3 separate regions of the Homo sapiens genome follow, and all the other regions are linked to region 1. The links come from fine-mapping of genetic effects on gene expression. A gene starts in region 1. Each other region holds a variant in brackets. All regions are shown on one strand. Distances are between the middles of the regions.

The links. PIP is the estimated chance that this variant, and not a neighbour inherited with it, causes the effect. A credible set is the group of variants that fine-mapping cannot tell apart.
Region 2: its variant is the best candidate, but not a certain one, in a credible set for the expression of VIM in unexposed skin (GTEx, PIP 0.82).
Region 3: its variant is the best candidate, but not a certain one, in a credible set for the expression of VIM in whole blood (TOPMed, PIP 0.54).

The regions. Positions count from the first base shown.
Region 1 is chr10:17,226,758-17,229,433 of GRCh38, forward strand. VIM (vimentin) reads left to right here and starts at 1,484. Exons shown (of 10, transcript NM_003380.5): 1 at 1,484-1,767; 2 at 2,519-2,676. The coding sequence starts at 2,666. VIM-AS1 (VIM antisense RNA 1) reads right to left here. Exons shown (of 3, transcript NR_108061.1): 1 at 2,588-2,676. RefSeq lists a silencer at 1-177.
Region 2 is chr10:16,895,896-16,898,395 of GRCh38, forward strand. All of the region lies in intron 54 of CUBN (cubilin), which reads right to left. Among named protein-coding and RNA genes, the nearest start is that of RSU1, 80 kb to the left of the region's middle. The variant T/TG (reference allele first, on the strand shown) is at 1,424.
Region 3 is chr10:16,941,362-16,943,861 of GRCh38, forward strand. The region is part of intron 36 of CUBN (cubilin); the gene reads right to left. Among named protein-coding and RNA genes, the nearest start is that of RSU1, 130 kb to the left of the region's middle. The variant A/T (reference allele first, on the strand shown) is at 1,165.

The sequences.
Region 1 (2,676 bases):
ATTCTATATGCATCAAACAAACATATGTCTGTGACAAGAGAGCAGCCTATCACAGCCCAGAGACTTCAGAATGGGGACAGGTTGGAAGGAGGAGCTACCTATCCCTGAGATGATGAAGAGGACCAGTGCCCATTCCAGGAGACATCACCGCAGCCCTGAGGAATCGGCTATGGGCACCAGCAGGGCACAGTGCCACACCTCGCCAATGCCTTGTCCTCCTTTTCCATAGTGAGTCAGTCAGCAAGCGTCGCATTGCCCTGGGATCGGCACTGCACGTAGAAGTGAGTTCCACACTCTCTTCCTCCCATAGGGAGATCACTTTTCTCATTCTAAGGGTTCCAGGCACACTCACAATGGTGGCATTTGCTGAGCAGTGGCTTGAATAAAGGGCTCTCAGAAAGCAAGATGTAACTCAGAGCATAGGCTTGTCCTCCAGGGCACCCAGCCCCAGGAATGCTCTTGGGGAATGACCTGCAGCCTCCCAGTGAAAGAGAGAATAAAAGAAAGCCCCAGCAGGCGAGCTGGGCAGTAGAGAGTCCTGTAATTCCACCTTGGCAAGCACCATTTGCAAGAACGAACTGGGATAAGGTAAACAAAATATTGCCTAAAAGAGGCTTGTCCAAAGAAGTCAGAATACGCTCTTCATTTACCTCTAAATTATGTTTCTTAAATACCAAGTAACCTGCAGTACCCCCTGCCGCCACCAAAAAAAAAGAGAGAAATACTTTTTTTTCTCCTATCCACTGCAGAATCAATTTTACAGTGGTTCTGCAGTTAATCCTTTCAGTACACCATAAATCTAAATACTCAAAAAAACCTGTGCCTTTTCAATTGCTACTAAATCACGAGAAGACTGATTTACATAGTCTCCTTTTATCTCCCTTGGCGGGTAAGTACTCAGCTCTGCTCGTTACTAATATTGAAACAACAGCCCTTGAATTGAGTGATTTCCCTAGAAAGGTTAAGGTGACCGAATCTGAACACTCCCTCCATGTCTTGGACACGAAGTTTTTTGCTGCGTAGACAGTTTTATCCCCCTCACCCCAAGGTCAATTGCACGAATTCTTTTGGAAAACAGGACCTATGGCATTTCCCAGACAAATCACCGTGAACCCTGTACTGTGCATTGCTGTCCTAAAATTAACACATAAATCTATTGCCGCCAAAGATTCTGTCATTTGTGTTACATAATTGCCTTTCATTTGAACTCATTAATCAAATTGGGGTTTTTAAGCAACACCTAATTAATTCTTTAACTGGCTCATATTATACCTTTAATGACTTCCACCAGGGTAAAAACCACTGATCACTGAGTTCTATTTTGAAACTACGGACGTCGAGTTTCCTCTTTCACCCAGAATTTTCAGATCTTGTTTAAAAAGTTGGGTGTGGTTTCATGGGGGGAGGGGGAAGAGCGAGAGGAGACCAGAGGGACGGGGGCGGGGACTCTGCAAGAAAAACCTTCCCGGTGCAATCGTGATCTGGGAGGCCCACGTATGGCGCCTCTCCAAAGGCTGCAGAAGTTTCTTGCTAACAAAAAGTCCGCACATTCGAGCAAAGACAGGCTTTAGCGAGTTATTAAAAACTTAGGGGCGCTCTTGTCCCCCACAGGGCCCGACCGCACACAGCAAGGCGATGGCCCAGCTGTAAGTTGGTAGCACTGAGAACTAGCAGCGCGCGCGGAGCCCGCTGAGACTTGAATCAATCTGGTCTAACGGTTTCCCCTAAACCGCTAGGAGCCCTCAATCGGCGGGACAGCAGGGCGCGGTGAGTCACCGCCGGTGACTAAGCGACCCCACCCCTCTCCCTCGGGCTTTCCTCTGCCACCGCCGTCTCGCAACTCCCGCCGTCCGAAGCTGGACTGAGCCCGTTAGGTCCCTCGACAGAACCTCCCCTCCCCCCAACATCTCTCCGCCAAGGCAAGTCGATGGACAGAGGCGCGGGCCGGAGCAGCCCCCCTTTCCAAGCGGGCGGCGCGCGAGGCTGCGGCGAGGCCTGAGCCCTGCGTTCCTGCGCTGTGCGCGCCCCCACCCCGCGTTCCAATCTCAGGCGCTCTTTGTTTCTTTCTCCGCGACTTCAGATCTGAGGGATTCCTTACTCTTTCCTCTTCCCGCTCCTTTGCCCGCGGGTCTCCCCGCCTGACCGCAGCCCCGAGACCGCCGCGCACCTCCTCCCACGCCCCTTTGGCGTGGTGCCACCGGACCCCTCTGGTTCAGTCCCAGGCGGACCCCCCCCTCACCGCGCGACCCCGCCTTTTTCAGCACCCCAGGGTGAGCCCAGCTCAGACTATCATCCGGAAAGCCCCCAAAAGTCCCAGCCCAGCGCTGAAGTAACGGGACCATGCCCAGTCCCAGGCCCCGGAGCAGGAAGGCTCGAGGGCGCCCCCACCCCACCCGCCCACCCTCCCCGCTTCTCGCTAGGTCCCTATTGGCTGGCGCGCTCCGCGGCTGGGATGGCAGTGGGAGGGGACCCTCTTTCCTAACGGGGTTATAAAAACAGCGCCCTCGGCGGGGTCCAGTCCTCTGCCACTCTCGCTCCGAGGTCCCCGCGCCAGAGACGCAGCCGCGCTCCCACCACCCACACCCACCGCGCCCTCGTTCGCCTCTTCTCCGGGAGCCAGTCCGCGCCACCGCCGCCGCCCAGGCCATCGCCACCCTCCGCAGCCATGTCCACCAG
Region 2 (2,500 bases), 330 kb before region 1:
TACATTTTATTATATAATTTCTGTTTACTTTATCTGCTTTTTGGTCCTCTATTTCTCTTTTCTTGATATCTTGGGGATTCCATTTTGATTGATATTAGCGTTTTTCTGTACATTTCTTCACACAGTTTTGGTAGTGGTTGTTCTGTGTGTGACAATGTGCCTATGTGATTATAGTAGTCTACCACCATCCACATCTGACCACTTGTGGAAATGTGATTTCCATTTAGGTCCCCTTTCAACTTTTCCATATCATTATACTGAATAACAGAGGGCATTATAATTTCTTGTTTTATTAAATATGATTCACAAGCTTTATGGGGAAAAGGATATTCTATTGTATGTACACATATTTTTGCTTTTTCCACTTTCCTTTTTCTTTTCTCATGCTCCACGGTTCTTTAATAATTTCATTTTTGTTTGAAGAACTTCTGTTTGACCATCTTTAATGGTAGGTTTCCTAGTGATAATTTTGTTTAGTTTACCTTCATATGAGAAGTTTTTATTTCCTCTTTACTCCTGAAAGATAGTTTTCCAGATATAAAATGTATGGTTGACAATTCCTTTGTTTCAGCACTTGAAGAATATATTGTCAATTCATTAGGGCCTCCATGGTTTCAGATGAGAAATCTGCTTTTATTCTAACTGGTCTTCCTCTCTAGGTAATGTCCCAATTCTCTCTGACTGCTTTCAAGACTTTTTGTTTGCCTTCAGTGTTCAGAAGTTTAATTAAGATATGTCTGAACTTACATTTCTTTGTGTTTATCTTGGTTTAGGTTCACTCAGCTTCTTGAACCTATAGGTGTGTCTCTTTTGCCAAATTTGGGAAAGTTTACAGCCACTAGTTCTTTGATTGTTCTTTCAGCTGCACTCTCTCCTCTCCCTTTGAGAGAATGTTGAATCTTTTGTTACTGTCCATGAGTCCCTAAGTCTGTGTTGATCTAGTTTGTTTGTTTTTTCAGTCTATTTTCTCTTTATTGTGCAGACTGGGTGAATTCTATTGTTCTATCTTCAAGTTCACTGATTCTATTCTCTGTCATCTCCATGCTACTATTGAGCCTATTCAGCATGTTCTTTATTTATGTTAGTGTATTTTTCAGTTCTATAATTTCTATTTAGTTCTTTATTGTAACCATTGTTTTTTTGCTGATATTTTCTATTTGTTTCAAGAGAGCTCGTCAGTGATTGTTGAAGCATGTTAATGGAAACTACTTCAACATCCTTGTCATATATTTCAACATCTGATTTATCTCACTGTTGACATCACTTGATTCTTTTCTCTTTCAAGTTGTGATGTTCTTGATTCCTGATACAACGTGTTCTTTCTGATTGTACCCAGGACATGTCATTTATTATGTTAGGGAACTTTGGGTCCTATTCAAATCTTTTATTTTAGCAGGCTGTCACCCTGTTTATGTTTACCACG[T/TG]GCCTTGCACATTTTGTGGGTTACAGTTCCAGTTGCTCTTCAATATTCAGAATCTGTGTGGTGGAATTCTGGTCTGCTTGGTTTACATTGGTGCTACCGGGGCTCTCACTGGTTCTTGCTGGTGCTACCTGAGGGACTCTGTGTGTTTCTCAGTTGAAGGCAAAGGGTATAGTAATTTTCCCCTACCAATACCCCCGGGTACCTCAATGTCTCTGGGTGGAAGAGGAGCAGGTCTGGCCTGTGGGGACAAAGAGGCTTCCCAGACTGGCCCCTTTCTGTGACTGGGACCCATTTTTCCAGTCCCACCTACCCTGGTGTCTCTGGGTGGGTAAAGAGAATCTCAGCTTTACAGGTGTTAAGTGGCTTCCTGCGGGGGCTGCTTGCCGAAGCTGGGTCCCTTTACTGGTTCCGTCCACCCACACAGCATTTCTTGGCAGAAACAAGCATCTCGGGCCCATTAGGAGAAGACGAGTGCTTCCCACGGCCACTTATTTTTGGCAGGGTTCCTAATACATCCCACTCGGCAGCAGCGTTGGGCTTGCCCGATGTTATCAGAGGGACCCCCATTCAATCCAGAGAAGGAATGAGCCTAGGCCATTTTCCACATTCCAGTTTTACAACTGGAGCACTTGAAAGTTTTACTTAAGTCTGAATACTTGATATTGATTCATTTCATGAGAAGAGAGTTCATTTAGTTCATGGAAAAAGCCATTAAGAAAAGTGTATATTAAATGTATTTTATTATATGTATATATATATATATATATATGTTATACACATATGAGATTTTCATTTAAACAGTAAGCATGGGTCAATGAGATATAAAACATCATTTGAGAGTTGATAGGAAGTAATAACACTGACAATAAAAGCCACTTTGACTCATCAAGTGACTTTAAATTCCAAGTACTTAGCACTACCTATGTTATTACATCGTATTATCTCCAATGCTTAAAACAGCCCCACTGAAGAAGGAATCATGCTCTTCATTCTACAGTTGAATAACTTAAAGGCCAATTGTTTAAGTAGCTCAGAGAAGAACATGCAGGTGGTAGGTATGACAGACATGAATGGAGG
Region 3 (2,500 bases), 290 kb before region 1:
AATATTTCTCAAGGATGTAAATATAAAGGCTAGAAACATAAAGATCCTAGAAGAAAACACGGAGAAAAATCTTTGTGACCTTGGGATGGGCAAATATTTCTTACATAGAATGCAAAAAGCACTAACCACAAGATAAAAAATTAATAAATTTGAATTCATAAATAAACATTTCATTAAAGACATGAATAAGAAAATGAATAGGCTGCGTGTGGTAGCTCACAACCATAATCTCAGCACTTTGGGAGGCTGAGGTGGGAGGATCACTTGAACCCAGGAGTTTGAGACCAGCCTGAGCAACACAGTGAAACCCCCTCTCTACAAAAAATAAAATGTAGCTATGTGTGGTGGCCTGTGCCTATAATCCCAGCTACTTGGGAGGCTGAGGCAGGAAGATGGCTTAAGCCTGGGAGATAGAGGCTGAAGTGAGGGGTGATCGTGCCACTCACTCCAGCCTATGCAACAGAGTGAGACTCTGTCCAGAAAATATATATATATTTAAAAAAATGAAAAGGCAAGTTACAGACCGGGGTGGGGAAATGGGAGATAATCGTAAAGCATTTATCTAGCAAGGGACTCAAAGTTGAAATATAAAAGGAATTCCTACAGATAATGAAAAAACAACCAAATTAAAAGTGGACAAAGGGCTTGAACAGATATTCATAAAAGAAGACAAGAAAATGGCTACCAAGAATGTGAAAAGTACTCTGCATGATTAGTCATCAGAGCAATGCAACTTAAATACCACAGTCAGATATCATTCCACACCCATCATAAGGGCTAAAATTAAAAGGCTGACAAGATCAATTGTTGACAAGCGTGCAAAGCAACTGAAGTCTTATATATTCCTCGTGGGACTGCATACTGACATAGCCACTTTGAATAATTATTTGGGAGTTTCTCATAAAATTAAATGTACATCCAATTAATGCCCAGAAATTCCACCCCTAAATATATACCCAAAGAAAATAAAAACACATGACCAAGGTAGTATCCTGAATATAAAATAACTCCTGCAACTCGAAAATTAAAAACAAATAACCCAATTAAAATGGAAAACAAACCGAATACACATTTCTCCAAAGAAGATTTATGAATGGCCAATAAAAACATGAAAAGATTTTCAAACATTATTAGTCATTAGAGAAATGCAAATCAAAACCACAA[A/T]GAGATAACACTACAAACCACCAGGAAGACTATTATTTAAAAATAGAAAATAAGAAGTGCTGATGAGGATATGGAGAAATTAGAACTCTTACGCATTACTAACGGGAATGTAAAATAGTCCATCCCTATAAAAAAGTTTGGTGGTTCCTCAAAAAGTTAAACATAGTATTATCATATGAACCAGCAATTTCACTTCTAGGTTTATACCCCAATGAAATGAAAGCATGAACAAACAGGAAAGGGGAAAGGGTAAAGGAAAAAGGGAAGGGAAGGGAAGGGAAAAGGAAGGGAAGGGAAGGGAAAAGGAAGGGAAGGGGGAAGGGGAAGGGGAAGGGAAAGGAAGGGAAGGGAAGGGAGGGGAACGGAAGGCAAGGGGAAGGGGAAGGGGAAAGGAAAGGAAAAATGTACTTCTCTGTCATGTGTATCTTTCTGTTAATGCTCAACATTATCCATGGCAAGATTTTACTTTATGCTAAGTATAGTGCTCCCCTGGGGCTCTATCTCAGCTAATGGAGGAGAATAGTTAGAGATAACCAGCCTGGAGGCTCTGACCACCTCAAGCCCTACCACTAATCAATATACCAGGCACATCTCTGGTCACTCCCTGCCTACCAGACCACAGGGGTGAAGTAACTGGTCAGCTCTGCTCTAACCTAGCTCTCAAGCCAGATACTAGCATTGGTAGGTCTCTAACCAAATCAGTAAGCCTGGTGGTAAGCTGGTGGCTCTCAGAATCCCACCAAGGTGGGTCACTACAGTATAGACCATCTGGACTAGACTAGATGGAATTTTCACAGCAAGCTATAACTGATAATTGAAATCAGGATATATCCACATCAGACAAAACAAACCACATATTTGTCTCCTTTGACAATCTGATGATTTATAACACAATATTTCTATCTTCAATCTTTTTTTTATTTTGCAAGGAATTGGTCTAAATCCATCTTTGGGATGGCTGCCAACTTTTGTGTATACATTCAGGCTCAATTTTATTACTCATAATATGATCAACAATGTGAAATACGCAAAATTGTTTTCTTCTGCTTCTCAGAAAGCAGAAAGGGAAGAAAGGGAGATCATTTTCCTCAGAACGTAAATTACACGAAGTTGCCTCTAAAATCTTTCTATGCAAAGTGCATAATCCAGCAACATCGGCATCACCGGAGAGCTTGTTTGAAACAAGGAATCTGGCCCCACCAACCAACTCAGTGAGAAAGTGAATTTCAGCAAGATCCTAGATGATCAACATGCACATTAGCATTCTGTCCGATGCTCCAGAAGATTACAAAGTGAAGGTCTTTTCTAAGTACTTGACTACTGCAATCCAGTGCTA